Homo sapiens: one gene and its partners. The protein of the gene in region 7 interacts with the protein of the main gene of each other region in a pairwise test. Each region holds a gene or a part of one and is shown on either strand. Other genes may lie near its edges. The genes, in order: GAS7, KAT7, COBLL1, EHBP1, SOS1, EHD3 and PACSIN1.

Region 1 (4,418 bases), on a different chromosome or scaffold from region 7:
TGGGAGCTCCATGCCACACATTCCTGGGACCTTGTCCCTGGGCCTCTGCTGAGCAGCCTCCCTTCCTCTGCCTATGCCTAGTGCTGTGGCCGCAATAGAGACCGGGCCAGGGAGGCAGACTGGGCTGCACGTGGCACAGCTTTTGTCAAAGGGGAGCGTGGAAAGGGTTTGTCCTCTGGTTTCTAGATGGTTTTGTGTCTTTGGAATCTAGGGGATCCGGCTGTTACTCTGCATACAACTAGGTCACTGCCCAGGTGATTAATCAGAAAGGGGGGTAAAGCAGGGGGCTTAATTAGGAGATTAACCAGGAGGAAAACTAGGTCACTGTCCCTGGTGGAGGCCTCTAATCTGCTCTGGTGGGCTGACACCTGGGGAAGGCAGCTGGTTAGTCCTGTGCTGGATGGACAGGGGTGGCTTTAGGCAGTGGGCTGATCCGATGAGCACCTGGCATGATGCCTCCTGTCCCATCTGGCCCAAGTACCAGCCACACTTCACTGTCCACTCAGGCAGGTGCTGACTGATAAGGAGATGCTGCCCCTTTACAAGAAATACTCAAGAGCATCATCGGCCCTGCCGCCTGTTGTTCACCCTTGGTGAGAGGCCTCCCCCACCCCACTGCCTAGCTCCATCCTCACCCATCCATCCACTTTGCAAGGATCTCCTACCAAGGACCTGCAACTCGTGTGTGTGCATGTGTGGGGCGGTCCTCTCTTCCTATAGCTTGGCTATTTTTCCTAAAGAGGCCCTTGTCCACTTAGTTGAGGAGAGTCCTCAGTTGACCCTGACCTCTCAGGGGACAGCCCAAGAAGGATGTAGCCATATCCAACCCAACCCTGCCCACATCCACACAGCTAGGAAGCGCTGGAGCAGAGATCTGAATCCACATAAGCTGGCTCACATTGAGGTTTCGACCCCAACACTGAAGTAGATTTGATGACCATCTCCAGGGTCACTCCACCCCATCATCCCCGCGCCCACCAACAACCACCAGGGGCTGCTCTGTGTCAGCCTCTGTACTGCCATGTCCACACATCCCTGCCCGCTTACCAATGTGGTGGTCACCATCTCTTCAAACCATTTGGACTGGGCCTGGTTGTAGAGATCCACACAGCGCATGAGGTCGTCTCCTGGAAAAAGACCACAGTCACCATCATGAAGCATCCTATCCTCACCATGACTCTGTGCCCCACCCTGAGCCCCACAGCCAAGCCTTCTCCTCCCCCTGGGGTCATGGTGGCCGCTGGAAAGCTGGAAAAGGGATGGCAGTAGGAAGAAGAAGAAAGCAGAGCCAGGGAAGGAAGGGGGCAACCCAGCCCCATGAGAACCCAGCTCAGGTGTCCCCCTGAAGCCTGACCCCAGATACCAAGGATTCAGGATGGTGGTTCTCATTTTGTGTGTGTGTGTGTGTGTGTGTGTGTGTGTGTGTGTGTGTGTGTGTCTAGGGTATTCCTAGGACCCCCAATCCTATCATGAGCCCAAGAAATGCTTCCCTCTCTAAAGATGGCAGTTTTATTTTACACTGGGGAGTCCAGATTGGTTAAAACATGTCACACACAATTTGGTGCTAAGAATAATTAAGGAAGATAAATTTGCAGATCATGTAAGTGTGTGTGTGTGTGTGTGTGCATGAACACACTGCAAGATGTCCTTCTGAAACACAAAAGAACGCATCTGTAGTCACAGTCTAAAACATGCACTGGAGGAGCACACCCCAGCTTCAGGAGAGTGGCTACCTTGGGAAACAGAGAAAGGGTGAGTGGGCAGGAATCAGCTCCTTCTATTGCATTTTATGTCATCACAGAAAGATCCGAGGCAAACATAACTATTCAATCTTTAGGACTACTCTATTACTTTGTTATCATATGTATGTTTAGAACATTTTGTAATTAGAAAGAAAACACACTGCGAAGTAATTGCAAACATTACTAAGCGTACCAGCACCTTGGAACCTTGCTACACAAATCACAGTCTGTGGGCCAGTGGCACTTGTATGCCCTGGGGTCGGCTAGAAATTCAGAAACCCAGGACAGATCCGAGACCTACTGAATCAGAGACTGCATGTTTATGAGACGCTCTGGTAATGTGTGTGCACGTGGCAGGCAGAGCAGCACAGCTCTCATGCACGGCTTTGTCTCAGCGTAGCTTCCTCATCCTCACAGGGCTCCAGCAAGAGGAAGGCATCATGGTGTTTGCTCACGATGGAAAAAGCTCATGAGTGAACCCCAAAGTGAAGTAATTTTCTCTAGTAATTCTAGAAGCAGAATGCTAGAGTAGAATTTAGTAATTCGAGTAGAGTCAAAGTGACTCCTATAGTATCATCATTGTGGCTCATAGGTACTCTGATAGGAAAGTCAAAGAGAACAGGGAAGGTTATGTCTCCAGGCCCCAGGCCTAGCTGCGAACCATACCCCTAGCTATGCCACACACCAGACGCGAGTGTGCCTTGAATAACAGAGCCCACACCAAGGCATTTATTCATTTTGTTCTTGGTCCAAGGCCAATGACTGGACCCTTGATCCCAAGAGGCACTGAACCGGAGAGAAGAAAGTGGATGCTGCACCGTAAAATGCATTTTTTTCTTTTTTTTTTTTTTTTTGAGACGGAGTCTGGCTCTGTCACCCAGGCTGGAGTGCAGTGGCGCAATCTCGGCTCACTGCAACCTCCACCTCCCGGGTTCAAGTGATTCTTCTGCCTCAGCCTCCCGAGTAGCTGGTACCACAGGCATGCGCCACCACCCCTGGCTAGTTTTTGTATTTTTAGTAGAGATGGGGTTTCACCATATCGGCCAGGCTAGTCTCGAACTCCTGACCTTGTGATCCGCCCGCCTCAGCCTCCGAAATGCAAATGCATTTCTAGCAAGAGCTCCTGCCTGGCCGAGGAGGAGGGCGGCGTGCTGCTCTGTACACTGTGAAACTCCCTGAGCCCTGTGTGTCAATGCTGATTTTGAGAAATTGCTTCAGGAACTTCCACAGCATTGGGAAACAGAGTAGGTGAAGGGGGCTGTACCTTCTCTCTATGGCAGCCCAAGAGCTTGAAATTGGAACTTTTTAGAACAGTATTGGTTAAGACCATGGATTGTGGGACAAGAATGCCTTTGTTGGCCAGGCGCGGTGCCTCACGCCTGTAATCCCAGCACTTTGGGAGGCCGAGGCGGGTGGATCACGAGGTCAGGACATCGAGACCATCCTGGCTAACACGGTGAAACCCCGTCTCTACTAAAAATATAAAAAATTAGCCAGGCGTGGTGGCAGGCGCCTGTAGTCCCAGCTACTCGGGAGGCTGAGGCAGGAGAATGGCATGAACCAGGGAGGCGGAGCTTGCAGTGAGCAGAGATCGCACCACTGCACTCCAGCCTGGGCGACAGAGCAAGACTCCATCTCAAAAAAAAAAAAAAAAAAGCCTTTGTTGTCATCCCAGCTCAACTACTTATTAGCTATGTAATCGTAGACAAGTCGGTTATCCTGCGCTTGCCTCCGTGTCTTCATCTGTAAAATGGAGATAACGATTGTACCTTTACCAAGTTGTTATGAGGAATAAATATGTCAAAATATGTAAAGCACTTAGAATAGAGATGGGCGTAGAGAGCCAAATATTAATATGGGCTATGGTGGTGATGAAGATGATGATGATGATGATGATGATGATGATGATCCCTGAGGATCTGATGTCTTTCCTTCTAGTAGCCTTGGAAAAGATGAGGAAGAGGGAGGAAAGGAACAGAAGGAAAGAACAGGTGGCATTTCCTGAGCAACAGGCTGTCCAGCAAAATGGCGACAAGCAGAGTCTCTGGAATGAGAGGAGACTGAATTGTGGCTTCGCCGCTCCACCACTGTGGACCTCATGGAAGGTTCTCATTTTCTCTGCCATCAGTCTTCTCATTTGTAAAGGGTATAAAAATACCTCCCTGCAGGGGGACTGTGCTGATCAAAAGAGACAATGCTCTAAAGCATGGAGGCTGGCCACAGCGAGTGCTCAGAAGAGGCGGTATTTTTCAGAGTTAGGTCTAAGGACTGTCACTTTCGTCACAAAATAATTCCAAACTACAGGAATGAGAGACCGTATTATCTGATGACAATGCAATAAAACTATGTAAAAAAAAATAGCAAGATTAGAAAACAACAACAAAGCCCTTGCTTGTAAACATATAAAGATTTTCTTTGAAACAATTCTTGGTTCGAAGATCAAATGAAAACCCAAATAGCAAAACATAATGAAAATAGCAGAAATAAAACCACCACAAATAAGAACCTGTGGAATATGGTTAGACCACCAGTGTAAGGAAAAATAAATGTCTGGTGGGTTACATATTTCACTGTCTTTTTTTGTTTGTTTGTTTGTTTTGTTTTTTGAGACAGAGTCTCACTCTCTTGCCCAGGCTGGAGTGCAGTGCTGCGATCTCAGCTCACTGCAACCTCTGC
Region 2 (3,500 bases), on a different chromosome or scaffold from region 7:
TAAATTAGGTATTTCCTGAAATCTGATTTTTATATCATATAATATGGAAGATTTTCAAATATTCAGAATGTTTATTTGATTCTCAGATTTATTCAGACTCTTTGTTTTCTCCTTCTATTACTATTTCTTGCCCTTTTGGCTATTTCATTGGTTTGTGTCACTCAACAACCAGAAACGAAAAGGAAAAAAGGCATAAATGGTAAGCAGTTCACATCAATAAAAATACCCGCTTTCACACAGTAAAACCATTTTACTTTATCTCCACGGCCTGCCATCTGTATCAGTGCCCCACCTTCTGACCCCATTATTTCCTGTGCACTGATATTTCTACCAATCGCCGCCAATCACCTCCCCTCCATGACTCTAGCCCTATGCAGTCAAGTGTGCCAGGGTCTGGAGAACCTGAGTCAAAGCAACAGTTCTGGGCCCTGAACTTACAGACCACATGCTCCTGAACTGGGAACATAAAAAAGCAGTTATCACCAACCAAACTGGGGAGAAGAGTATAATGACAGAAATCACAGGAAACCTGGGTCATAGATGCTCAACATATGGAAATCCTGGGAAATAAAAAAGGAAGGGGAAGGAAAAAGAGACACCCCAGAGGCCTTAGAGCCAAATTATATTGTGATTATGAGAACAAGGGCTGGGCACAGTGGCTCATGCCTGTAATCCCAGCACTTTGGGAAGCTGAGGTGGGTGGATCATGAGGTCAGGAGATCAAGACCATCCTGGTCAATATGGTGAAACCCTGTCTCTACTAAAAATACAAAAATCAGCCAGGTGTGGTGGTGTGCGACTGTAGTCCCAGGTACTCAGGAGGCTGAGGCAGGAGAATCGTTTGAATCTGGGAGGCGGAGGTTGCAGTGAGCCAAGATCGCGCCACTGCACTCCAGCCTGGTCAACAGAGCAAGACTCCCTCTCAAAAAAAAAAAAAACAAGAAAAAGTCTTCTCTGCCTGAAAGGCTAATCTCTACTCCTTCCCCTGTTCCGCACCCTTGCTCCATGGCAGAAATTCCCCTTAAGACAAAGCTTATTCTGTAACAGAGCGGGGGAAAAATGGCTTTTTTTTTGAAGCTGCAAAAAATCTAGTAAACCTATTTGTCAACAATAACAGATTCAACTCCTTATACCTGTTTTATTAGGAAAAAGAGGGGAAGGCACCAAAGGACCCACTCTGCTACTTTCATAATCTGTCACAGGCTGATCACTATTAAATATTAATAAGTACCCATTCAACATATACTTCTTGGGCATCAGTTGTCCACACTAGTTGCTAGGGATATGAAGGTGAGCCATGCTGTCTCTGCTGTGCCTAATGAAGTCTGTATTTTCATCTAGTTTGGGACACACAAAACCTGTGGGCAGAGGTAATTCATATTCCAAGGAGGAAATGAAGAGCAGTAGGCAGCAAGAACAAAAGACAAGAAGATGTACATGACAGGATGTGGGTAAGGGCCCTCAGCTGCTTTGGGTGGCACCCAGCACAAGCCATACCTCAGGCTCTATACCCCGCCTTAAGCTGTGGCCTGTCATTTCCTATGCCTTCATCCCACTGCTGAGGACCACTGAGAAGGTGCCTGAACAGATGCCATCGCTATGGCAAAATCTAGAGATCCTACAGCTTATTGCCATCATGGTCAAGGCAGAGGAACCCAAGACAACTCACCATGTGCCGGCGGAGTATCGTTTGGCTCTTCATATATTTTAAACAGAATTCACACATATAGAGACGTCCCAGCCGTGCATATTCTTCAGGATATGGAGAATGATACCAGGTATCAAGCTCATAGCGGCCAAAAGCAATTGTTTTAATCATGTTGCTTCCCTCTGTGATTTGGCCTTGCAGCCTTAACTTCTCCTATTGCCAAGAAATCAAAAGTCAAAGGAGGATCAGAATTTATTATCTTTGCTTTTAGACAGGGCACAGTGGCTCCTGTAATCCCAACACTTTGGGAGGCTGAGGCAGGCAGGTCACTTAAGGCCAGGAGTTCGAGACCAGCCTGGCCGAAATGGCAAAACCCCATCTCTACTAAAAATACAACAATTAGCAAGGTGTGGTGGCAAACAATTGTAATCCCAGCTACTTGGGAGGCTAAGGCAGAAGAATCGCCCAAGAGGCAGAGGCTGCGGTGAACCGAGATCGCACTACTGCACTCCAGCCTGGGAGACAGAGCGAAACTCCTTTTTAAAAAAATAAATATTATCTTTGTTTTTAAAAGTGTGTGTGCATGCCACCACGCTAGGCTATGAAAAAAATCAGACAGATTTGGCTTCTATCCATGAGAATTTACACTAAAGAGAGCTACATGAAAAATCACACAGGTGTACAGAAAACTTACTACCCATACTGCCCAGAGCACAGGTCTCAAAAGAGAGGTTTCTCTGCTACCTCCCACATTCTGGGCCTCACCAGAATGATACCTTGGAAACTTCATTTTTATCAGCCTAGACCAAACTGAATTATAAAGAAAATCATCACAGATACAAACTCCCCACCCTTATAAAGTATTCTAAAACTAAACAAAAAACTTGATTTAGAATCTGCCTTACTTATCTGCAGAAGCTTTTATAAAGCTATATGAATCTCCGTGAAATATATCCACAATGGTCACTTAGAAAAAAAAACAGGCCCTTTAAAAAATATTTTTGAAATGTGCATGATAATTCTAGAATCTAAACTCTAGAAGGCAGAAAATATTTCTGGGATGGGTGTAGTGGCATGCCTGTAGTCCCAGCTACTCAGGAGGCTGACGTGGGAGAATCGCTTGAGCACTGAAGGTCGAGGCTGCAGTGAGCCATGATGGCACCACTGCACTCCAGTTTGGGCAACAGGGCAAAACCCTGTCTCAGAAAAAAAAAAAATTCGGATATCCATCTCCATTCAGTGGCTCTGAGTTGGCTACAAAAGTATAATTTGTAAGCATAACCAGGTGTAAAGTTGTAAAAGGCTAGCCCAGGAAATGCTCCATGCCAGAATAGGATAGAGAAAACCAGCAGCAGTAACAGCCCATCCCAGCCAAGGGTAGCCAGCAAACCCTGCCTCTGCCAAGTTTTCAACAAGTCTAGTATTTGATACAATTTTTTTTTAATACAAGGGGGAAGGGGGTGAAGACGAGATTCACTTTAAAACTGAGCTTCCCTGAACACATTTAATCTGTTATATCAGAGGTAAACTCAATCACCAGAATTTTCTTCAAGCAAAGTTGTTAAAAATTCTGCCTAGGACAGCAACTCAGTATAAACTAGCTCTAAATAAATATCAGAATGGAAAACCAATGTATCAAACTTGGCTGTGTCAAAGATTAATTCTAAAACATCTGACAACAGCCTTTTCCATTATTCCTCTTCACTGTTATTTTCATTCTTAGTGCAGAGGAAACCTAGCAAAAGGGGAGTTCCTGTTGGGATTAAGAAAACAACAGAGATGAGTCTCTCCTAGGCTACAGGTTCTCAGAATTGCAAATTGCCCAGCTGAGACAAAGGGGCGCCTATGGTTT
Region 3 (4,418 bases), on a different chromosome or scaffold from region 7:
ACAAAGGACTTGAACAGATATCTCTCCAAAGATGATTTACAAATGGCCAATGAAAAGGTATTCAAAATCACTACACATTAGGGAAACAGGAATCAAACATGCAATGAGATACTACCACATACCCATTAGGATAGCTGCTACAGGGAAGGGGGGCTCTATAACATAAACGTTGGTGAAGAGAATTGGAACCTCATGTACTTTTGGTGAATGTAAAATGGTACAACCACTGTAAAAAAAAACAAAACAAAAAAAGAACAAACAAAAAACAGTATGGCAGTTCCTCAAAAAAATTAATAAATAAAACTGCTATATGATCCAGACTTTCTATTTCTAACAACACACCCAAAAGAACTGAAAGTAGGGTCTTCAAGAGGTATTTGTACACCCATGTTCATAGCAACAGCACTATTCACAATAACTAAAATGTGAACACAACCCAAGTATCCACTGATGGATGGATAAGCAAAATGTGATCTATACATACAATGGAATATTATTCAGCTATAAAAAGCAATAAAGTACTGATATATACTACAACATGTATGACATTATGTGAAATAAGCCAGTCAAAAAAAGACAGACTTTGATCTCACTTGTAAGAGGTACCTAGAGTAGTCAAAATCAGAGACAAAGTAGAATGGTGGTTTTCAGGGGCTGGAGAAAGTGGAATGGGGAAGTTATTGTTTAATGGGTATAGGGTTTCAGTTTTGCCAGATGGAAGGAGTTATAATGATGGAAGGTGGTGATGGTTCAACAATATGAATGTGCTTAACACCACTGAACCATGCAGTTAAAAATGGCTAAGATGGTAAATTTTATGCTATGCATATTTTACCACAATGGAGAAAAAGGGGGATAAAAAAGCAGGTAGAGGGCTGTTTTGACTTTCAGGACATAGTTTGCTGACCCATAAGTTAGGCTGTTGCATTTTAAATTCTAAGCATAGACATAATGTTTTAAGCCAGTAACAAAGTACCATTTATACACTAACATCATGTTCATTTTATTCCTACAGATACATATAATTTCTGTAGTGAAGTTCTTAAGATTAGAAGCCTATTTCCCAGTACCTAGAAAAATATGTTTTATATAAAGTAAGAGTTCAGGAGTTTTTGACTGATTAATTAAAAGTAGTTGTCTTAATAACATGAAGTTTGGCATTTATTATTATATTAACACATCTGGCGTTTCAGTACAAATATAAGGTCATAATATTGTTATTCAATATCCTCTAACTCATGTAGAGGTAATTGATTTTGAAGGGCAAGTATAGCATTTTTAATAAATAATTTCATTTTTGTTATTCAGTAATCAAAAATCCTACTTTTGAAATATTGTTATACATTTAATAGCTGCCTAATATCAAAAAATAAGTATAGACTTTGTCATATGATGAAAAAAACTGCCAGTTTACTATGAGTTAAATTACATCATACCATACACAGGAATATGTTACACATTACTTTGAAGACATAAGCCAAATAATTAATCTCCTTTTAAATGCTAGACATTTTATATGCATTGAAATTTATAGTTTTTAAATATAAAATGTAAACATAATTTTAAAAAGAATCAAGATAATGCTTTTATAAGGCCACTTTAAATAAAAATCATTTTTAGCCATTCAGTATAATCCATGGTAGCAAACATAGCACTATGAAAAGCATAGGTTTGGAATCAGAGCTTGTTTCTAATACTCTTCCATTCCTTAGAGTTGTATGACCTTCAATGTGTTAATTAAGCTCTCTGATCCTCAGTTTCATTCATTGTAAAATGAAGTTAATATACTTATTCAAAAAGAAGTAGCAAAAGCTTTAAAAATAATATTGCAAAGCAGCTACATGGAATCTTTCAAAAGGCAAAATAATGCTAAAGTTACAATCTTGAGTTCCCTATAAATGATTAGTAACAGCCTCTATTCTCTTTTTTGCATCAGCTCCATGTCAGCTATTGATATCTACTTAATCAATGATTCTCAAATCTGGTCACACACTACAATCACCTGAGCAGCATTTTAAAACTAGCCATCCCCTGGTCCCAGACCAAGAGAATTAAAATCAGAATGGGTGGGGGCATGAGAGCCCAAGAATTCGTGTGAAAGTATCCCAGATGACTCCCATGTTGAAACCTCAGAGAAGTCACTCAACTTCAAGTATTCAAGAACTCAGTTCATACAATCAGTGAAACTTTAGAACCAATAACACTCCTCAACAAAAGCTTAAGAAAGCAGCTGTTAAATCATTCTTTAATTTTTCGTATGCCTTCAATTAACTCCATAGCTCCAAAGCTGCAAAATGATAAAGAGAGCTTTTGTCCCCTCTGTACATTCCTGAAAATGTGCTTCAGAATCAAAATATTAAGATCCCTCAGAGCAAGGTCAATTAAGCTTTTGACATTTAAATTTCGAAGGATTTTTTTTTTTAAAGCATATCTGGGCAAGTAAAGAACATAAGCACTAGTTCCAAAGATAAGCACCCAAGTTGATGTCAGCAATCATGTTGCTTTTTCTAAGTGATTAATGTCACTTTACTAAGTACTAATATAGAAAACTTAAATAAATTTACTAATTGGATATCCACGTTAGAGAAGGAAATTACTTTTGACTATCGCTCTCTTCTCCAATGCAGCATTTCAATTTTCCAACCAGTGTCTCCAACATTTTTGCTCTCTGCAAAAAAAAAACGCAAACCAACCTAGGATTTCCACTTCATAGAAACAAATATAAAAATGATTTATCATTTTTCATCTAGATCACTATGTAAGTTAAACCAGTCAACTTTCACATACATATGAAAACATATATACATGAATTAGATAGGAGTATATATGTATGTATATGTATAGTATACATAAAATATGTAATTATATATGAATGTACATATTACATTTGAATATATATAAAGTTGCATGCAATCTTTTTTCTCGAAGGAAAACCGAAACTGTTGTGACTCAATGTCTTTTGATATCTAAACTCTTAACCTCATAACGAATTCCAAAAAGAAGCCCATAAGATACAGAACAACAAATATAAAGTGGATACTTCTGCATGTTACTAAGAAAGTGATCTAAAGCCAGGCACAGTGGCTTGTGACTGTAGTCTCGGCCATGCAGGAGGCTGAGGTGGGAGGATCACTTGGGCCCAAGAGGTCAAGGTCAGCCTGGGCAACATAGCAAGACTCCAGCCTGTCTCAAAAGAAAGGGATCTAATCTAGAATGGTAAGGGATTAAAGCAGTACAGTAGAGGCCAAAATGAAAGACATTCAAGATGACCACAGGATCAGACCCTTTTAAGGCAGGGACTTCACCAGCACAGACCCTACGGCAGCCACTATTTCTGCACACCATTGCTTCCACTGAAAAGAAAATGACACCCAACCCATATAATTCACAATGTCGTAGAATGCTAAATGCGAGTTAAATGTGTGAAGGCACCAAACAAACTTCAAACTATCCCTTTTGATGTTACAATTATTATTTAGAATGTTTCAAAGAAAAAGCAGCAGCTGAGAGGCCATAAAACAATTTTATTTTCCTAAAATACTCATTCCCTGAATGGGCTAATTTATCATAGAATTAATAAAAGTGAAGATAAGGATATCAACTACATTTTTCCTGAAATGTATTAAAATATTACAGAGTTAATGGTTAAATATAAGTTATCCGTTAAAATGTATAACGTCATGGTATGTTATATCATACCATGGTCAAGAAAAGATAAAAAGCAATTAACAAAATGAACTAGGCACTTGGAGTTTTTCTTCTGGTTTTACTACTAATTTGCTGGGACTTCAACACACTCAGTGTTTCTGAGCTTCAGATTCTCATTTATAAAATGTGGAGAACAAAACTTGGTGCTATGTTAAAATGACATGTTACAACAATGTAAAACTTGGAAAATTACAGAGGAATTCTTTCCAACAGTAATATCCAAGGATAAAGACTAAACTAGGCTTCATTGTCTATTAAAGTAATGAGTTATGATATAATTAGTCAGTTTTATAGCAAGAAATTTATCTCCAAAACCTAACAATTATAACATATTAAGATTTCTGCCTGCCACTTCCCAAATACCCTTATCTAGATATTTTTCCCCCAGTTTAAACCTTTTATAATTTGGGTTTTTGAGAGAGAAGAGAAGCAATACTGAATATTAAATATTCAACAAATCTTATATGACAGGCATTCGGAATATGCCAAAGGACAAGTTAGACAAGTGAAATAAGACAAATGAAGTAGAGAGGTAATTTTTTCATGTTGATATTTTTCAGGTAATGATAACTTCTCTGAGTAGAATAATGTAAGGCAAAATGATAGAACTACTGTGTTATTTTAGATAAGGTGTTGACAGATTTTCCCTACTTAAATTTGAAAAGGGGACGGCAAAAGTCCTTTACAAATGCTTGACAAATTAGATAAGG
Region 4 (5,210 bases), on a different chromosome or scaffold from region 7:
TAACTTAACATGCTTTCAGTCCTGCCTGACTCTCAAACCTCATATCTCACTGCATGCCCCCCAATCCTACACTTTAAACCCCATTAATATCAAACTATACTACTTGAATTTCCAGCACATCCCATGCTAGGTAAGCCTCCCATGTTTCTGCATAGGTTGTTGCTTCAGTCTAGAATGTCTTTTACGTCTTCTCCCTTGGCTTCCTGGACAACAACTATGAATCTTTCAAAACCCAGCTCAGATCCCAGGAAGCCATCCCAACAACTCATCCTCTACCCTTAAAGAATTGTTTTTCCCTCTGCGACCTCTGTACATAATAATGGCATCTATTAGGCACTATGTCCCTGACACTGTTCCAAGCATTTTAAATGTATTAACTCATTTAATCTTCACAATTACCCTCCCCATGAAGTGGCACCATTATGACCTTTATGGATATGGAAACTTGAATCACGGAGAAGTTAAATAACCCGTCCTCAAAGATACTCAACTGTATCGAGACAGATTAAAATCCTTATGTCATACATATTTATATTATTGCATCTCTCACGGTGAATTTATTCATGTGACTCTCCTTATACTGGACTGCACACTCCTTGAGGACAGGGATTATGTTGTATTCTACTCTAAATCCACAGTACCTGGTATAAAGTAGGTAATGAGTGCATGCATTTCTCAAACTGATTTTAAAATAATATTCCTAATAAGTTGAAGAGAAAAGCATTCAGAAACTAGTTCCAAATAAATATTCAAATATAAGAGTTCTAGAATAAAGCAAGCTATTTTTTTAATCTAATAAAATGGATGTTAAAAAGAAAAATTATTACAGACCTGAATTACAGTCCTTCTGGACAAAGAAATGGACTTATTTTGCAATAAGTCCATTACTGCTTAATCACTGCAGTAAATCAAGACCCAAACGACCATTTGCTTAAAATTAACTTTTTTCTCTCACTAAATAAAAAATTTTTGTTGTTTATCATTCAGGGCAATGGAAAGAAAGCCCTATATTTACTCTTCTCAAGTGGAAAAAAGCCAATCACAGACCAGCACTACTAATTGCTTCCTTAAATCTGGCCAAGAAATGTATCCCATTAGGCAATTAAAATAAAATACAGTTGCCTGAGTAAGCATTTAACAAAAGAATTTCTAAGGTTTTGTGGATGGCATTCCATTAATCAAATAATGAAAAATTCTTTATCCTAAGCAAGGAAAAATGAAAAAACAAAAATAAAATAGATTACCATCACCCCACAAGAATATAGACTTCTATATTAAAACTCTATTAAATCATATGCCTGTTATATTAAAATATACGGATTAATGCTCACAATATTTCAGTAGCCATTCTTTGTCTCCTTAAAATTACAAAAATCAAAGTTATTTTAACACTAATGATGAATAACCTCAAAACCAAATCTATTGTATTTAGTGTGCTCTCACAGTTACAGTCCTCTGAGCCATACTGAAGCGCAGTAATTAAAATCCACAGGGATGGTACTAGCAGCAACAGTGCACAGCACAGTACTTGTTAGAGTTATCTGCGCCCCACCCAGCTTCTACACACTAGTGCACTATAGAAAGGTAAATATACTATCAGAAGACCCAGAGTTTAGGCCACAGTATGCTTAGGCCACAGCACAGCAAAATCTACCTCCAGGTACATCTTACCATTTCTTCGTACACTCAACCATGAGCTCCTGGTAGGAGGCCACAAACTGGAACTTGGATGCATGTTTTCCCACACGCTGCAGTCTCTTCCAAACTGAAGCCATGATGATCAGTCAAGACACTGGAGCAGTTCTGGGTTAGCAATACAGCAGCTTTAATAATGCAGAGGGTCCAAAGCAAAGGAACTTTGCATGTATGTCTTTTAAAAACTCAACTACAACTCGAAATGATGCTTGGGGTCCATAAGTCTTCTCCCTGTTTCACAGGGTAAATCCCATCTTAGATGAATGGCCCAGTCAAGAACACTATGATATACGTGACAGGATGAGTGGGAAGGGGTTCCCTCATGGAGACATCACCATGCCACCTCAGGGGCTATATGATGGGTATTCTGGAGGGCTGAAAAGCAAAACAAAGACAAAAAGAGAAAGAATATGAGGAGAGAATCATGAGAAATGACTAACCACCCATGTTAAATAACGCTGCAAAAGACCATCCCAGTTCTCTGCATGTCTTTTAAACAATGAAACAAAACACTGACCTCAAAAGCCAGTAACATCAAGGATGCAAGACACCAAGGAAGAAATTACAATTCACACCGAAGACGTGGAGCGACACATCAGGTAGTCAGCACCAACAACAATCCAGAGAGACGGTAACTCGGGGCCCTACCTCCCCCTGTTAGCATCACTGAAGGGCGAGCAGAGCGGGAAAGTCTAGGGATGCTGTTTAATGTCCACCGCCAGAAAGAGGGAGAAGTGGAGTATTTTTTAATAAACTTTGTTTTTCAGTCGATAATTAATAGCCTCAAGTCCGACAATATGTGCTTGGAACAAATTAGGGAGCCAGGAGGAATGCTATTTTTCAGTCGGAGGGAGGAAATGGATGGGGAACGAGGAGTGGAGGGAAATCTCCAGGCAGAGAGAGGGCAATGTCCCGGCTCCAGGCCACTTGGGCTCCTTCGCTGCCAACCGGAGGGAAATGGAAACTCCTGCCTGGGGGTGAAGCAATGACCAGCGGGGCAAGTGGACTGTGCAGGGTGCGGTGCCTCCCTCCCCCATCCTCAGGGAAACAGTCCGCCGGAGCCCAGTCTCCTCACGCACGGAGCCCAGACCCCTGCCCCCCAGCGGAGACAGGCGGTGGCTCGTCCGCGGTCCCTGTCACCCAGGCGATACCAGAAGACCCCAGCCCGGACCCCGAGCCCCGGCCCCGCCGCTCGTCCACTCCCGCCCCCTCCTCACACCTCTAATCCCGCTGTCGGGCTGAGTCTGGCCCCGTTCCCTTCTCATAGCCGCTCCTCCGTCGCCGCCGCAGCAGCAGCCGCCGCCGCCACCGAGTCCTCCATCCCCGCCGGAGCCACATGGAACAGCCAAGCCAGCCACGGCGCTCGCGGTAGCCGGGATCTGCAGCCCCTCAGGCGGACGGCGCCCCTCACGCCCACCCCCTCCCTGACAGATCGCCCCGCGACCGTCCCCCACCCTACCAAGCCCTGCCAGAGCCACCGCTCAGCGCCCAGCACCCCCTCCCCCGCCTTTCTCCTCCGCCACCATCATCATTACCTCCCCCGCCGCACCTCTCACACTAACCCTACCCACGGCAGCTCAACCTCCACCGCCCCGCCGCCATTGGCCAGGCCCCGCGCGTGCCCCGCCCACCTCGGCGGCCGGGTCTTACAGCGGCTGGGGCACCTCATTGGTAGAACTGCCTGCCCATCACAGGGGCTCCGCCTTGCCCTTGCTCGGGAGGTGGTTTTTCCCCGAAGCCGGAATGCGACGCACAGGCTACCTTTTTTTTAAAAAAAAAAAGAAGGAACCGACTAAGGACGATCCCGCCCGTTCTTCTGATTGGCTTGGAGAGGGAAGCGATAGGCGGGAGGAATAGGGAGTGTTTATAGTGAACTGCAAGGTGATTGCAGAAGGTGGCTGTCCGTCAAAGGCGCCGCTGGTGCGGGGCTGGGTTTCTGGCCCCTAAGGGTGATTGCAGACCTAGAGATTGGCTTCGCTGCAGCTGTGGGCAGTGCAGCTGCCTGTGGGTTTCTCTCCTGTTCTCATCTCCGCCAGGACCTGGGCGCGCCCTCTCCTCCGCCACTGGCAACTAGGGTTTTTGCGCATAGCCTTTATTTCACCAGTTCCTCCTGGGATCTTACCTGACAACCTGAAGTAATGACCCTGTCAGGCACCCCCCGACACCCCGGCCGCTCCCCGCCCAACATAGAGTCAACTGGTCTTCAGTGGGATTGAATCAGCTGAGCTAGACACAAAATGTGTACAGTACAATTTCTTATTGTTCGGAGTCTTCAACATTTCTTTGAATCTTGGTTTCCTCTTCGCTGTCGGACTCTTTTGCCCCTAGTGAGAACTGTAGATGGATTTGGGAACAGCTAGCATATAAAAAGGGTGGTCAAAGGCAAAAAGGAGGAGGCAGAGTGAGGGCAGGGACACTCAATCTTGTTAAAAGAGCCAAGGGCCCTTTTGAGAATATGAAAGCTACAGATACTTTCTCAAGGGGGAAAAAGTGTTCTGTCTCAAAACACAAAAAATTGTTTTCAGTTTTAGGTGGTTCACAGACCCCTGGTGTGGAGAAAGAGGACAAAGAATGAAACTTCAGGGGAATCCTAGCATCTAAGGAATAAACAGAGTAAAATGGGAAAGAGACCGAGAAGGAATAATCAGAGAAGTAGGCGCATCAGCAAGCTATGGGCAGACAGTTTGGAAAAAAAAGAGAGGCAAGCTAACATAAAAAGAAAGCAAGCGGGATGGGTTCTGGAAACAAGGATCATTCAATCTTACGAAGGTTGGAAAGCAGGGTGCATGGACAAAGTAGCTTGAAAGGTGTTAGGGTCTAGGGAGGATTCTTTCAGGGACAGGAAGAGAGAGCAGTGATGGGTGAGAATTGAGTCCATCTGTAGACATTGGGGGCCAAGACAAAGTGGAGAGACATGTTGAAGAATCAAGAGAGATGGGGAGACAGATATAAGGCTTGAATCCAGTATCTAATTCAATTTCCACTTTCAATAAAGAAAATGATCTAATAATACAAGAGCACAGTGTGCATTTTACAGAAAACAGCATAGTTATCGCTTATTTTGCTAGTCAATTCTAAAATGTTAAGATAATCGTAATAATCATATTGATTCTTATTTTCTATTAAGAGTTCTCTGATGTCCTTCCTGAGTGGTTTACGAAGTCACTACAACCTACAGCCATTATGATCTCATATAATAATATATTCTGCATCTTTAGTAGGCTTTAAGTGTGTGGAGTTTTTTAATGGCTTATTTGTAGAAATGGTCATAAATTATTTTCATCCAAGTTACCCTTCAGAAACAATCCACATGATGATCAGAAGGTTTTTGCACCCTATTTATTACTGTTCTCTGGAAGTTCTCAAACTTTCTTATGTGGTCATTCTGGTTTCTTTTAACATGCTTCCCTTACTCCAAAGGGAGAGGGGGAAGAGAGAAAAAATAGAGAGACTGACTTTATTGTAAAGAAATTCCCTTAAAAGTAATAAGTTTTAAATGGTGTCTTAAAAAAAAA
Region 5 (4,418 bases), on a different chromosome or scaffold from region 7:
TGCCAAACTTAACACTTTTCAGGCCCTTTGACTTTTCTATAGCCTGGTATGATCAATGACTCTTTCTTTTCTTTCTATTTTTGTTTCTTTCTTTTTCTGAGACAGGGTTTTACCCTGTCACCCAGACGGCAGTGCAATGGCACGATCATGGCTCACCTCAGCCTCAACATCCCAGGCTCAGGCAATCCTCCCACCTCAGCCTCCTGAGTAGCCAGGACCACAGGTGCGTGCCACCAAGCCTGGCTAATTTTTTTTGTTTTTTGTTTTTCTTTTTGTTCTTTTCTTTTTTTTTTTTCTTTTTTTCTGAGATGGAGTTTCACTCTTGTTGCCCAAGCTGGAGTGCAATGGCACAATCTCAGCTCACCATAACCTCTGCCTCCTGGGTTCAAGCAATTCTCCTGCCTCAGCCTCCTGAGTAGCTAGGATTACAGGCATGCGCCACCACGCCCAGCTAATTTTGTATTTTTAGTAGAGATGGGGTTTCTCCATGTTGGTTAGGCTGGTATCGAACTCCTGACCTCAGGTGATCCCCCGCCTCAGCCTCTCAAAGTGCTGGGATTACAGGCGTGAGCCACCTGGCCCGGCTGATTTGTTTTTGTTTCTTTTTGAAACAGAGTCTAGCTCTGTCACCCAGGCTGGAGTACAGTGGTGTGATCTCAGCTCACTGAAGCCTCCAACTCCCAGGATTCTTGTGTCTCAGCCTCCCGAGTAGCTGGGATTACAGGCGTGCACCACCACGTCAGGCTAATTTTTGTATTTTTAGTAAAGACAGGGGTTTCACTATGTTGGCCAGGCTGGTCTCAAACTCCTGACCACAGGTGATCCACCTGCCTTGGCCTCCCAACATGCTAGGATTACAGGTGTGAGCCATCGCACACAGCCAACTCTTTTCTTGAAGCATTCCTCTCTCAACTTCTCAGACACTAGGGTTTCATTCCTTCTGCCTGACTCCTTGCTTCTCGGTCTCCTTACATCATTCCTTTTCCTCTGCTATCTCCCTATACACTATTTCCCACTCCCTTCCCCCACTTCTTATGCCAGCCCTTTTTCAGTCTTACTAAAATCATTTTCAGCGTGTGGTCTCATCTACTTTTTAAAATACCTTCATTGAGGTACAACTGACATACAATAAACTGCACATATTTAAAATATACAATCTGAAAAATTTCAGGATATGTACACACCCCTGAAACCATCAGCACAATCAAGATAAGTAAACATAAAAAGCCTCTCCCTAAACAACCACTGATCTGCACTAGTTTGCACCTTCTAGAATGTTCTATAAGTAGACTCATATAGTATATACTCTTTTTTGGTTTCCCTTCTTTCATTGAGTATAATTATTTTGAGATTCAGCCATGTTGTCATTTGTATCAAATTTGTTCTCTCTCTTTTTTTTTTTTTTTTTTTTTTTTTTGAGACAGGGTCTCATTTTTTTGCCCAGGCTGGAGTGCAATAGCACAATCACACCTCACTGCAGCCTTGACCTCTCAGACTCAAGCAATGCTCCCACCTCAGCCTCCCAAGCAGCTGGGACTACAGGCTCATGCCACCACACCTGGCTAATTTTTTTAAATGTTTTGGCTAATTTTTTAAGTTTTTTGTAGAGACAGGGTTTCATTATGTTGCCTAGGCTGGCCTGGAACTCTTGGGCTCAAGTAATCCTCCCACTTTGGCCTCCTAAAGTGCTGGGATTACAGGTGTGAGCCACCACACCCAGCCAGTTTGTTCCTTTTTATTGCTGAGTAGTATTCCACTGTTTGTATCACAATTTGCTTATTCATTCACCTGTTGACGAACATTGGATTTTTTCCAGTTTTTGACTGAAAAGAGATGCCATGAACATTCATGTATAAGTCTTTGTATAAGCTTCATCTATATTTATGGCTTTACTTACACATCTAGAAGTTCCAAATCTGCTTCATCAGATACCAACAACCAATAGTATTCCACTGTTTGTATCACAATTTGCTTATTCATTCACCTGCTGACGAACATTGGATTGTTTCCAGTTTTTGACTGAAAACAGCTGCCATGAACATTCATGTATAAGTCTTTGTAGAGGCTTCATCTATATTTATGGCTTTACTTACACATCTAGAAGTTCCAAATCTGCTTAATCAGATACCAACAACCAATAGCCAGTTGGAGAAGTTCACTTGAATAACCCAAACTTTTAAGTCAACATTTCCAAAAATCATCTTATTATGCCACTCCTCTCTCCATCCTAAGAGCTTCTCCTACATTCTCTATCCTGACTAAAGACAATCAAGTCAGAAACAAGACTATTCCTGTTCCATTACCATTCCCCCAATCACTCAGTGAGTTACTAGATCCTGTCAATTTTGCCTTGTAAACTTCTTTCAAATAAAATCCACATCCATATTTCCATCCTTGTTCAAATGCACCCTTAGTTCAAATGTGTATTATCTCTTGACTGGACTATTAAACTAGGCTTCTAACTTTTCTCCTCACTTTACGTCTCATTCTTCTCCAAACCATTTTCCATTCTATGGCCAAAGTGAATTTTCTAAAATTAAAATGTGCTGTTACTCCCCTACTTAAAACTTATTGGCTGGGCACAGTGGCTCACCCTGTAATCCTAGCACTTTGGGAAGCTGAGGCAGGCAGATGGCTTGAGCCCAGGAGTTCAAGACCAGCCTGGTGAAACCCCATCTCTACAAAAAATACAAAAATTATCTGGATGTGGCAGTGTGCCTACAGTCTCAGGAGGCTGAGGTGGGAGGATAGCTTAAGCCCAGGAGGTGGAGGCTGCAGTGAGCCAAGATCGCACCACTGCACTCCAGCCTGTTAAGACTCTGTCTCAAAACAAACAAACAAAACAAAAACAAACAAAAGAAACTTTATCAATGGCTTCTAATTACCCAAGAAAAAATTTAAATTCCTTAGCTTAACATATATAAAAACTGTTCATAAACCAGTTGTCTCTCCAGACATGCCCTGCCACTTCCCATCATGTTCTAATTTAGTCTTTTCTGATTATGTCATTTACTTTTTTTTTTTTTTTTTGAGACAGAGTTTTGCTCTTGTTGCCCAGGTTGGAGTGCAGTGGTGCAATCTCGCCCCACTGCAACCTCCGTCTTCCGGTTTCAAGCTATTCTCCTGCCTCAGCCTCCCGAGTAGCTGGGATTACAGGTGCCCACCACCACGCCAGGCTAATTTTTGTATTTTTTAGTAGAGATGGGGTTTCACCACGTTGGCCAGGCTGGTCTTGAATTCCTGACCTCGTGATCCGCCCACCTTGCTCTCCCAAAGTGCTGGATTACAGGCGTGAGCCACTGCGCCCGGCCCTGTCATTTACCTTTTTAGCCTGAGTGTCAAGGGCAATACCTGGTCTATAGTAGGCATGATATATTTGTGCAATAGATAAGATAGGACTTAGACTCATAGATGCGGTGAAACAGATACAGTGGGACATTCCAGCCATATTCAGGAAAAGTAGCAGTCCGGACTGGCTAAAGCAAAAAGGAGATAAAAGGTTATGGTAGACAATCCAGTCAGAAAAGCAGGATGAAGCCAAATATCAATTGCTGTTAATTCTATGCTAAAAAGTGCACTTTAGCATAGGTTGAACTCAAAAGACATCAACAATTCTGAGTGTGACATGTTCAGAAGTGTCCTATAACTGGTGAGATTTGAAAAACAGAAGGTGAGGTGGGGGCCAGTGAACCCCATTAAGAAGTTATCACAGTAGTCTGACAAAGGAGACTCAATTAGAGAAGTCGGAGGAGGAATAGACTAGAAGAACATGTCAAAGGGAAATGAACATACAGGCTCTACCTGAGTGTGCACAGTAATACAAAGAAGCCAGAGATGACCCCAACATTTTAAACCAGTCAAATGTAACAATAAAGCCATTAATCGAGAAGAAAAACTGAAATGACAGGTGGAGGAGAGAAGTGATAGTTTTAGTTTGTATATCCCCTCACCTATTTATTCAAATTGAGTGCCTACCAGATGTCAAGCACTATAAGTATGGGGAATAAAATGTGGGTAAGATATCATCCCTGTTCTCAAGGAGCATCCAATCTAGTTATAGGCAAGTAAATAGGAACTTAAAATTCACAGAGCTAGGACAGGGTGCAAAAAGAAAACAAAGGAGTAATATCCAACTCAGCCCTGATGATTTGACAGTTCAGGTTGAGTGAGTCTAGAAGGATGAGTAGTGTTGGACCAGGCAAAGAAGGATGAAGGGACTAGCATATCCAAAGAGCCTCAGGTAAGAGTAAGAGAACACAAGTCGGATGTATCTACGAATAATTCAATAACAAATCAAAGGAAGAAATCAAGATATGGAGATATCCACATGAAATGTCCAGCAGGCAAGTAAAAACGTAGGTTTTGAGCTACCAACAGCATATCCAGATATGAAACATACTGTATTTTCAATCTTGTTT
Region 6 (3,318 bases), on a different chromosome or scaffold from region 7:
AGTGCTTCCACACCCGGGCTCTGAGCAAATGGAAAAGACTTTTCATTTAGTAGACAATTCACTTCTTTTTCTGTGCTTCCCCTATCTGCTTTGGCTTCCTAATAAGAAATCCATTCAAGAGCTAGGAGATCTGAGGGCAGGCGGGCAGCTGCAGGGAGGAGAGGTGAGAAAGGAAGCGTCTTCTAGAGACATTGGCCCAGGAGCTCTGTTCTTTCCTAATCTAAGCCTCTGTCTTCTTCGGCAAACCTTGCTTTGAACTCTGCCAGTATTTCATTTTAAAGAATCCCAGAGCGGGAGAGAGAAGAGAAAAAAATTGATAAGAGTGAGGAAATTGTCCTGTAGTCTATTGAAAACCAGTCAAGGTGGTTTTAGTTCATAGATTTTGTTAGATGTTCTTTCCACCTGGCCTATGATGTTTAGATGTTCATACTTGACTCACATTTACCCAGCCCCTCCTGCGTACCAGGAGCTGTGTTAGGCACTTTATATACATTATTCTATGTGGCCCTCACTGATGCCCCAGGGAAGTATGCATTAGCCTTCCCATTTTGCAGTTGAGGAGGCTGAGTAGCCTCAGAAGGGTTTAGGCGACCTTCTGAAACTCACAGAAGTCACGTGATGGAGAGAGGATTCAAAGCCAGGGCCTCAGACCCTCACACACTTGTCTGTGCTATGATGTATGCAGGATCCCAGCATTGATACCCAATGACAAACTATGGAGAACAAGCAAAGTATGCAGGCCCCCTGCAGCCTCCCAGGACAGGCTGGCAAGGGAGGAGGGCCGGCCAGCATTTGGTGGCCCATCAGTCTGGCCATCTGTCACGTCACAGAAGCAAACCGTGCCTTCTGGCTCTGCGCCCCATATTCCCAGCATCATAGACATCCAACAGCACCAGCAGGAGAGTGGGCTAGCCTGCTGGATGCTGTTCGTGCCTGTCCCTGCTCTGCCTCCCACCCAGTTGCCTGAATCATCCCAGCTCAGATGCAGCCACTGTCTCTTGTCAAGTGGGACCTCATACTATTCTCAGAAGGCTAACTTGAGAGGTTTGGGGCCTTGTTCCCCAGAGGGTCCCCAGGGACTCTGCAGTGTCCTTGGCAAATCCCCACTGTACTCAATGCCCTACATTCTCTTCTGTGGTCTCTCCCCTGGCTTGCTTCATGGCCACTGAACCAATCACTTTGTATGCTATGCTCCTACTGTGATGGAAAACAAAATGAGTATAACTTATTTTATATCCATATTCAGACTATATAGAGAATATTCTATGCATCTATGACGTGCTTACTACTGCAGTGCATTTGTCATTAGTCTTCATGTTAATACAGTACATTTATTCTTTGGTACCTGCCTGGCCACAGAGCATCATTCAATGGAGGCTGAGGGAGAAGGGCTGGGTTCTTACTTGGAGTTCCTGGTGAAATCTTTGGCTGGAAAGGGCTCACTGGGGCCACCCAATGGCCAGCATCCACAACCAGCTTCCCAGTGGGCTGGAGTTTGTCTAGGCTCAGTGACCAACCCAGGCACAGCTGGTGGAGCCACCGCTCCCTGCTCCTCTGGAGTGAAGATGTTCCCTAAGCCCCTGGGCTTCCTTCTGCAAATACACATTTCTCTTTCACATGAAATGAAGGGCAGACAAAGGCCAGGCAAAGAGGTCTCACCTGCTCTGGAGAAAACCCTTGAGTGCCGAGTGCAGGTTAGGGACCATTTCTCAACTCCACACCTTTCTTCAAGCTGAAGGAGAAATGGGAAGGAAATAGCAGAGGTAGGTGAAGTTCCTGTCTTTTTATTTTATAGGAAAGGGAGATGTCTGTTATCCCCTTTCTTCACTGCCACTGGACACACATGCCACTTTCCTGCCCTTCTACATATGCTGCCTCTCTTCCCTCTCTCCATCTTGAAGTCTCCACCCAGGAGAGACCTGTGAGGTGTGGGAATTCCATGTTTGCACAGCTCCCATCTCCCTGGAAAGAGGAACTGATGTTTGAGGGGACAGATGTGGGTCACTTTCCCTGGCAGTGCCCTCTAGCCTTGCTGCCTTGGCTTTCTGACCCCTTCCAGGCTTCAGGGGCCTGGGAGATCTCATGCCTCAGCCCAGGAAACATTTAATAGGGAAAGCAGAGACATGTCATGTCAGCCCCACAGACAAGAATTTCTAGAGCACTTGTCCTGTTGTTCCTTGCCCCGACATTACTCAGTCTGGGCCATGGAATCCATCCAATAAACACAGCAACACCCTATGCTACTGACCAAGCAAAGCTTGCCCCTGGTACCAAAGAGCTAAATCATGACCAAAGTGTGACATGAATGTAACTGAAATGCGGGTTAGTTGCTCAATGTATGCAAAGTCCCACGGACAAGAGTAAAGTCTGATACCAATAAAGTGAATGTATTCCAAAGCTAGCTTGGAGGAGGGGCACACAACGTCCTGCCTTTCAATGTGCCGCTTCCCCTTTGGAGCAGAAAGCAGGCACTTTTATAAGGTAAGGGAGCAAGTGAGCAAGGGTCCGCCTGATAGCATGGTGCCTTATCTACTGGACAGTTGAGTCGGGCCTTCCTGGGCAAAAATAAATTTTAAAAGTGGCCAAGTAGGCATACTTTAGATATAACCTCCTAGTGAATGAAAGTCCTGAGGCAGCCCCTGGAGGGTGGGAGTTCCAAGGCAACCCCTGGAGGTGAAAGCTCAAGGAGGGCATGTTTTGGTCTGCAAATTGGCAGTCAATTCTGGAGGACTATTTTGGAGCAGAGAGATGAACTTGCCCTGTAGGGAATGTCTAGTGAAGGGGAGATGAAAGCTTATATTTGCATTTCCCTTTTTTTGAGACAGTCTCACTCTGTCGCACAGGCTGGAGTGTAGTGGCATGATCCCAGCTCACTGCCACCTCTGCCTCCCAGGTTCAAGCCATTCTTGTGCCTCAGCCTCCCAAGTAGCTGGGACTACAGGTACTCCACCACCACGCCTGGCTAATTTTTTTTTTTTTTTTTTACTTTTAGTGAAAACAGGGTTTCACCATGTTGGCCAGGCTGGTCTTGAATTTCTGACCTCAAGTGATCTGTCCACCTCAGCCTCCCAAAGTGCTGGGATTACAGGCATAGGCGAGAGCCACTGCGCCAGGCCTATATTTGCATTTCTAAAGGGCTACCTAGGAAGTTGGGAATCCAGGAAATGGAAAAAAGAAGAGAGGAAGAAAAAAACAGCTCTTAGAAAACTGGGGTGCTCATTTACATGAATATTTCCAGATGACACCACTGAACCATAGCAGGGCATGGGCCTTGGTTTGCAGAGTGATGAGTGGTTGCCCTGAGTCATCCCCACTTCC
Region 7 (3,648 bases):
TCCCACGGGTCCCACACAGAAATGCATTCAGAGCCAGGCGAGACGCAGGAAGGCATGGCACAGCCCAACATCACCGCACAGGGAGCTTGGCACTGTGGACAGCCAGGAACCGTGGGCCTCAGCAGTCACTTTTAGAATTCTGCTTTAAAAAGCAAAACCTATTTGAGGACCTCATTCACTCTTGATCCATGAATGTGGAACCCTGAATGCCCCAGCTCTCCTGGTCAGGGCCTGTCACCAGGCACCCGGAACCTGAATGGGCCAGAGCTCCAGGAGCCTCCAGTATCACCCTCCCCAGTCCAGACAAGACCCAGGCCCCCGCAGGGCGAAGGGACCGGCTCTCAGTGGCCTAGTCTGTGGATGGTGGGCCAGGACAGCACCCAGTCCTGCTCGGGCACCACCCCTACCCCCCTGCATCCCAACCACAAATAGCTCTCAGAGGGCTCAGAAACCCCCAGGACTGAAGGTGCACAGACTCAAGATGACAATGCGCAGCCAGGTTGACACAGTTCTGGATTTTATCCACAGTCATACAATCACAACTGATATATATATATATTTGTATTTATATACCTTTAAATTACACAATCATGTACAAAACAGGTGCATTGCTGAGACCACAGCACTTCTCGGAGTTTCACAAGTGTCGGAACTAATGGAGTCAGGAAGCCTAGGGCGGCAGACGGCGGGCGGTGGGGCAGCCCTGGTTCCTTGCAGAACCAGGCCGCAGAATGGTGGTTAACTGGGGACAAAACACATTACTCGCCGAGCCCCACCAGGGCGGGCCCGTGCAGCATCGTGGGTGCAGGCAGGAGCTACAGGAGGAGGCCGTGGGCATGGCAAGGGGCGTGGCCCCCACACTCGGTGTTGAGTGCCCTGACACCAGCACTGGCAGGTAGGGCTGGGCCCTGGAGCTCAGGGGGACTTCCAGGTAGGAGACCCTCCCGCTCTGGGGCCCTGAGGACCTGGGGACTGAGAGAGTGGTCCCAAACAGGGCCCTGGAGGTGGCTGCTCAGGACGGAGGGGGTTTCGAGTCCCTGCCCTGGAGTGGGCAGCTAGAGTGCTAAGAGGGACAGGCTGGAGTCCAGCTGGGGCTGCAGCCCCTCCCAGGTGCTGGGAAGCCGCTGGCACAGAGAGGGGGAGCCCAGGCCCCAAGGTGCAGATTGCCAGCTTCCCACCTTTCCAAGGTAAGCGATGAGGGACAGAGGCCCCCAACCCCAACTCCTGCCTGGGGAAAGGCTGGAGAGAGAGGCTTCTGCACTGGAGCTGGGAGGACTGCAGGCTTCCAAAAGCTTGCTTCAGGCTCTGAGGAGCCCAGGACACACCTCAGGCTGCAGCCGAAGCTCGGAGACCAGACAGTGATAAGGAAGGGGGTGCTGACGGCAGGAAGGAGGTCTGCCTGTCCCCGGGGTGCCATCGCCCCTGGCCCTGAGGGAGGCCTGCCCCAGCTCAGGCCCTGCCAGAGTGTCAGGACCCTCTGTGCCCACATGAAGAAGGTCAGAGCCTTGAGGCTGGGGTCTACTACCTCCTAACAGTGGGCTGTTGGGAGAAGCAGCAGGAGCAAAGGAGGACTGAGGGGAAACAGGGCTGGGCTGGCTCTCTCTCTTTACCTGGAGGCCCAGGAGGCCAGGTGTGCAGGAGGGAGGAGGGCATCTGCGGTCCAGAGGCCTAGAAGTGGCATCCACTGTAAGCAAGTCTCACCTGGTGCTGCAGGACTTCTCAGCTCCTTGCCCCAGAGGTCCCCAAGAGACTTTTCTTCCAGCTCCCCGCCCTCATGGGGTTTTGTCCAACCCTGGTCTGCTTCCCAAGCCCCCGCACCCTCTCGTGCGGTACCTAGCACTCCGGCACCACTGCTTTCACCAACCAGCAGGTGGGCCCTTTGCTCCCACCCACCCCCAAAGGTCCTTTCACTCTGACCCAGGTTTGGAGACATGGAAGGGCTGCCAGCAGGGAGAATGTTGTTCTGGGGGCCGTGGGGACAAGGAAGAAAAACATGTGACTATCTTCTTCCTGAGGGCCAGGATTCCTCCTTTCTGCTGAACTCAGCTGCAGGCTCTCCCCTGATGTCTCAGGCTGGAGGCACCCGTGCGGCCTTCACGGGCTCCCCAGGCAGGCCAGAGAAGAGGACAGAGGAATGGTTAGGCCAAGAGCCTTGCAGGTACAAGGCTTGGCCTCATGGAGGCTGATGTGGAACCCAGTGATTTTATGGTTTTTGGATGGACATGGAGGGAGAGTGGGGGGCCAGGGGAACAAGATGATCTCCTCCCCAGCAAATGGGAGCAGGCTGCTACTGTTGCTGGCTTTGCCGTAGGTTTGGGGGTCCCCACCCTAGGCCAGGGGACTTTTGAGAGGGGACAGGTCCTCTGCAAGTTGCTGAGGGGGTTTGGATCTGCTGAAGAGCCGATGCTGAAAGTGCTGATAGCTGGAAAGAAGGGCCTGCGTAACAGCGTCTTGGTCCCTCAGATGGGCCTGGGGCTGGGAGGGCTGGCACAGCCCGGGCTGAGGGCCTGCATGCCCTTCATTCACCCTCCTGTACCCCAGTGACACCATGACTTCCTCCAGCTCACCCCTCTTTCATGTCTGGGGGACCCCTGGAAACCTCCATGGGGGAGGAGGGTGACCGTTCCTCCTCCAGTCCCACCGGTCCCAAGGGACGTGGCTAGGAGTAGAAGGGTGCTCCCCGGGGCAGAGTGGAAAACTAAAGATGGGGAAGCCTCCCTTCCAGGGGTCTGGAGAGGAGGCCTTTGAGAGCAGGGTGGTGGAGGAAGGGAAGCAGGGCAGGGGAGGAAGAAGAGGTTAGGAAACCAGGCCAGGGAATGGGGCAGGTGCCGGCAGCCTGGAGTGGAGTGGGACGGAGGGAGTGAGGCGGGGTGGAAGGGTCAGGAGACATCCATCCCTCAGGGCTCAGGAGACTCTTTGGTGGAACCCGAAGAGCAGATGTTGTGATGTTGGGCTAAGTCCTAAGACTGTTACCTACCCTGGGGCCACCCCAAGCCCCAGCACCCCAGCCTCCAGGTGGCCCTGCAAATGCTCTGTCTCTGCATACTTTGTTTTGTTCTGTTTTGACTTTTAAAAAAATAAAAGCTTGATCGGAAAATATGTCTGGAACTCTATGGCGAGGGGAAGGAGACGAGAGTGGGAGGGGAGGGGCGGCAGTGGGGAGGAGTGACGGGAGTATGGAGGGAGGGGGCCTCTAGATAGCCTCCACGTAGTTGGCAGGGTAGAGGCCCAGCTGCCCGCTGTCCAGCCGCCCACGGCACCAGCCCTGCTCATCCTCCTCGCCCAGCTTGGTGAGTTCGTCTCCTGGGAAAGAGAACACAGGGAGGGGCTCAGAGAGAAGGCTGCCCCTCCCTCAACGCACCGGCTGCTAGGGGAACCCTCCAATACCCACCTCCTGATTACTGCACTGGGTTTTAGATTCTTAGGCCCCGCCCCTGGAAACCAGCCCCAGTCCCACGCCAACATTCACGTGCCACCCTTGGCATAGGGGTCTTGGCCTACCTCAGCCATTCACCTAATCTGGGTGTCGGGTCCGTCCCCAAAACCAGACCTCGCATCCACACTATTCTCAGGTTCTGACTCCGCCCCTGGCACCAACCAATCTAAATCTTGCCCCCACTCCCATCCTGGGCCCAGGTCACGCCCACA

Evidence for each region.
Region 1: the proteins of PACSIN1 (region 7) and GAS7 interact in a two-hybrid assay, tested with the Homo sapiens proteins (one large-scale study listed by BioGRID and IntAct).
Region 2: the proteins of PACSIN1 (region 7) and KAT7 interact in a two-hybrid assay, tested with the Homo sapiens proteins (one large-scale study listed by BioGRID and IntAct).
Region 3: the proteins of PACSIN1 (region 7) and COBLL1 interact in binary tests that used the Homo sapiens proteins (3 or more experiments, as listed by UniProt).
Region 4: the proteins of PACSIN1 (region 7) and EHBP1 interact in a two-hybrid assay, tested with the Homo sapiens proteins (2 studies listed by BioGRID and IntAct).
Region 5: the proteins of PACSIN1 (region 7) and SOS1 interact in a two-hybrid assay, tested with the Homo sapiens proteins (one large-scale study listed by IntAct).
Region 6: the proteins of PACSIN1 (region 7) and EHD3 interact in a two-hybrid assay, tested with the Homo sapiens proteins (one large-scale study listed by IntAct).

What each region holds. Positions count from the first base shown.
Region 1 is NC_000017.11:9,918,579-9,922,996, forward strand, and holds part of GAS7 (growth arrest-specific protein 7), read right to left. Parts: intron 1,128-4,418; coding exon 1,048-1,127; intron 1-1,047. UniProt on the Homo sapiens protein: May play a role in promoting maturation and morphological differentiation of cerebellar neurons.
Region 2 is NC_000017.11:49,816,181-49,819,680, reverse strand, and holds part of KAT7 (histone acetyltransferase KAT7), read right to left. Parts: intron 1,862-3,500; coding exon 1,670-1,861; intron 1-1,669. UniProt on the Homo sapiens protein: Catalytic subunit of histone acetyltransferase HBO1 complexes, which specifically mediate acetylation of histone H3 at 'Lys-14' (H3K14ac), thereby regulating various processes, such as gene transcription, protein ubiquitination, immune regulation, stem cell pluripotent and self-renewal maintenance and embryonic development.
Region 3 is NC_000002.12:164,834,831-164,839,248, forward strand, and holds part of COBLL1 (cordon-bleu protein-like 1), read right to left. Parts: intron 1-4,418.
Region 4 is NC_000002.12:62,703,757-62,708,966, reverse strand, and holds the start of EHBP1 (EH domain-binding protein 1), read right to left. Parts: upstream 3,255-5,210; 5' UTR 2,915-3,254; intron 2,655-2,914; exon of another isoform or gene 2,213-2,654; intron 2,071-2,212; 5' UTR 1,776-2,070; coding exon 1,672-1,775; intron 1-1,671. UniProt on the Homo sapiens protein: May play a role in actin reorganization. Links clathrin-mediated endocytosis to the actin cytoskeleton. May act as Rab effector protein and play a role in vesicle trafficking.
Region 5 is NC_000002.12:39,114,016-39,118,433, forward strand, and holds part of SOS1 (son of sevenless homolog 1), read right to left. Parts: intron 1-4,418.
Region 6 is NC_000002.12:31,267,051-31,270,368, forward strand, and holds the end of EHD3 (EH domain-containing protein 3), read left to right. Parts: 3' UTR 1-2,401; downstream 2,402-3,318. UniProt on the Homo sapiens protein: ATP- and membrane-binding protein that controls membrane reorganization/tubulation upon ATP hydrolysis. In vitro causes tubulation of endocytic membranes. Binding to phosphatidic acid induces its membrane tubulation activity.
Region 7 is NC_000006.12:34,532,076-34,535,723, reverse strand, and holds the end of PACSIN1 (protein kinase C and casein kinase substrate in neurons protein 1), read right to left. Parts: intron 3,304-3,648; coding exon 3,194-3,303; 3' UTR 501-3,193; downstream 1-500. UniProt on the Homo sapiens protein: Plays a role in the reorganization of the microtubule cytoskeleton via its interaction with MAPT; this decreases microtubule stability and inhibits MAPT-induced microtubule polymerization.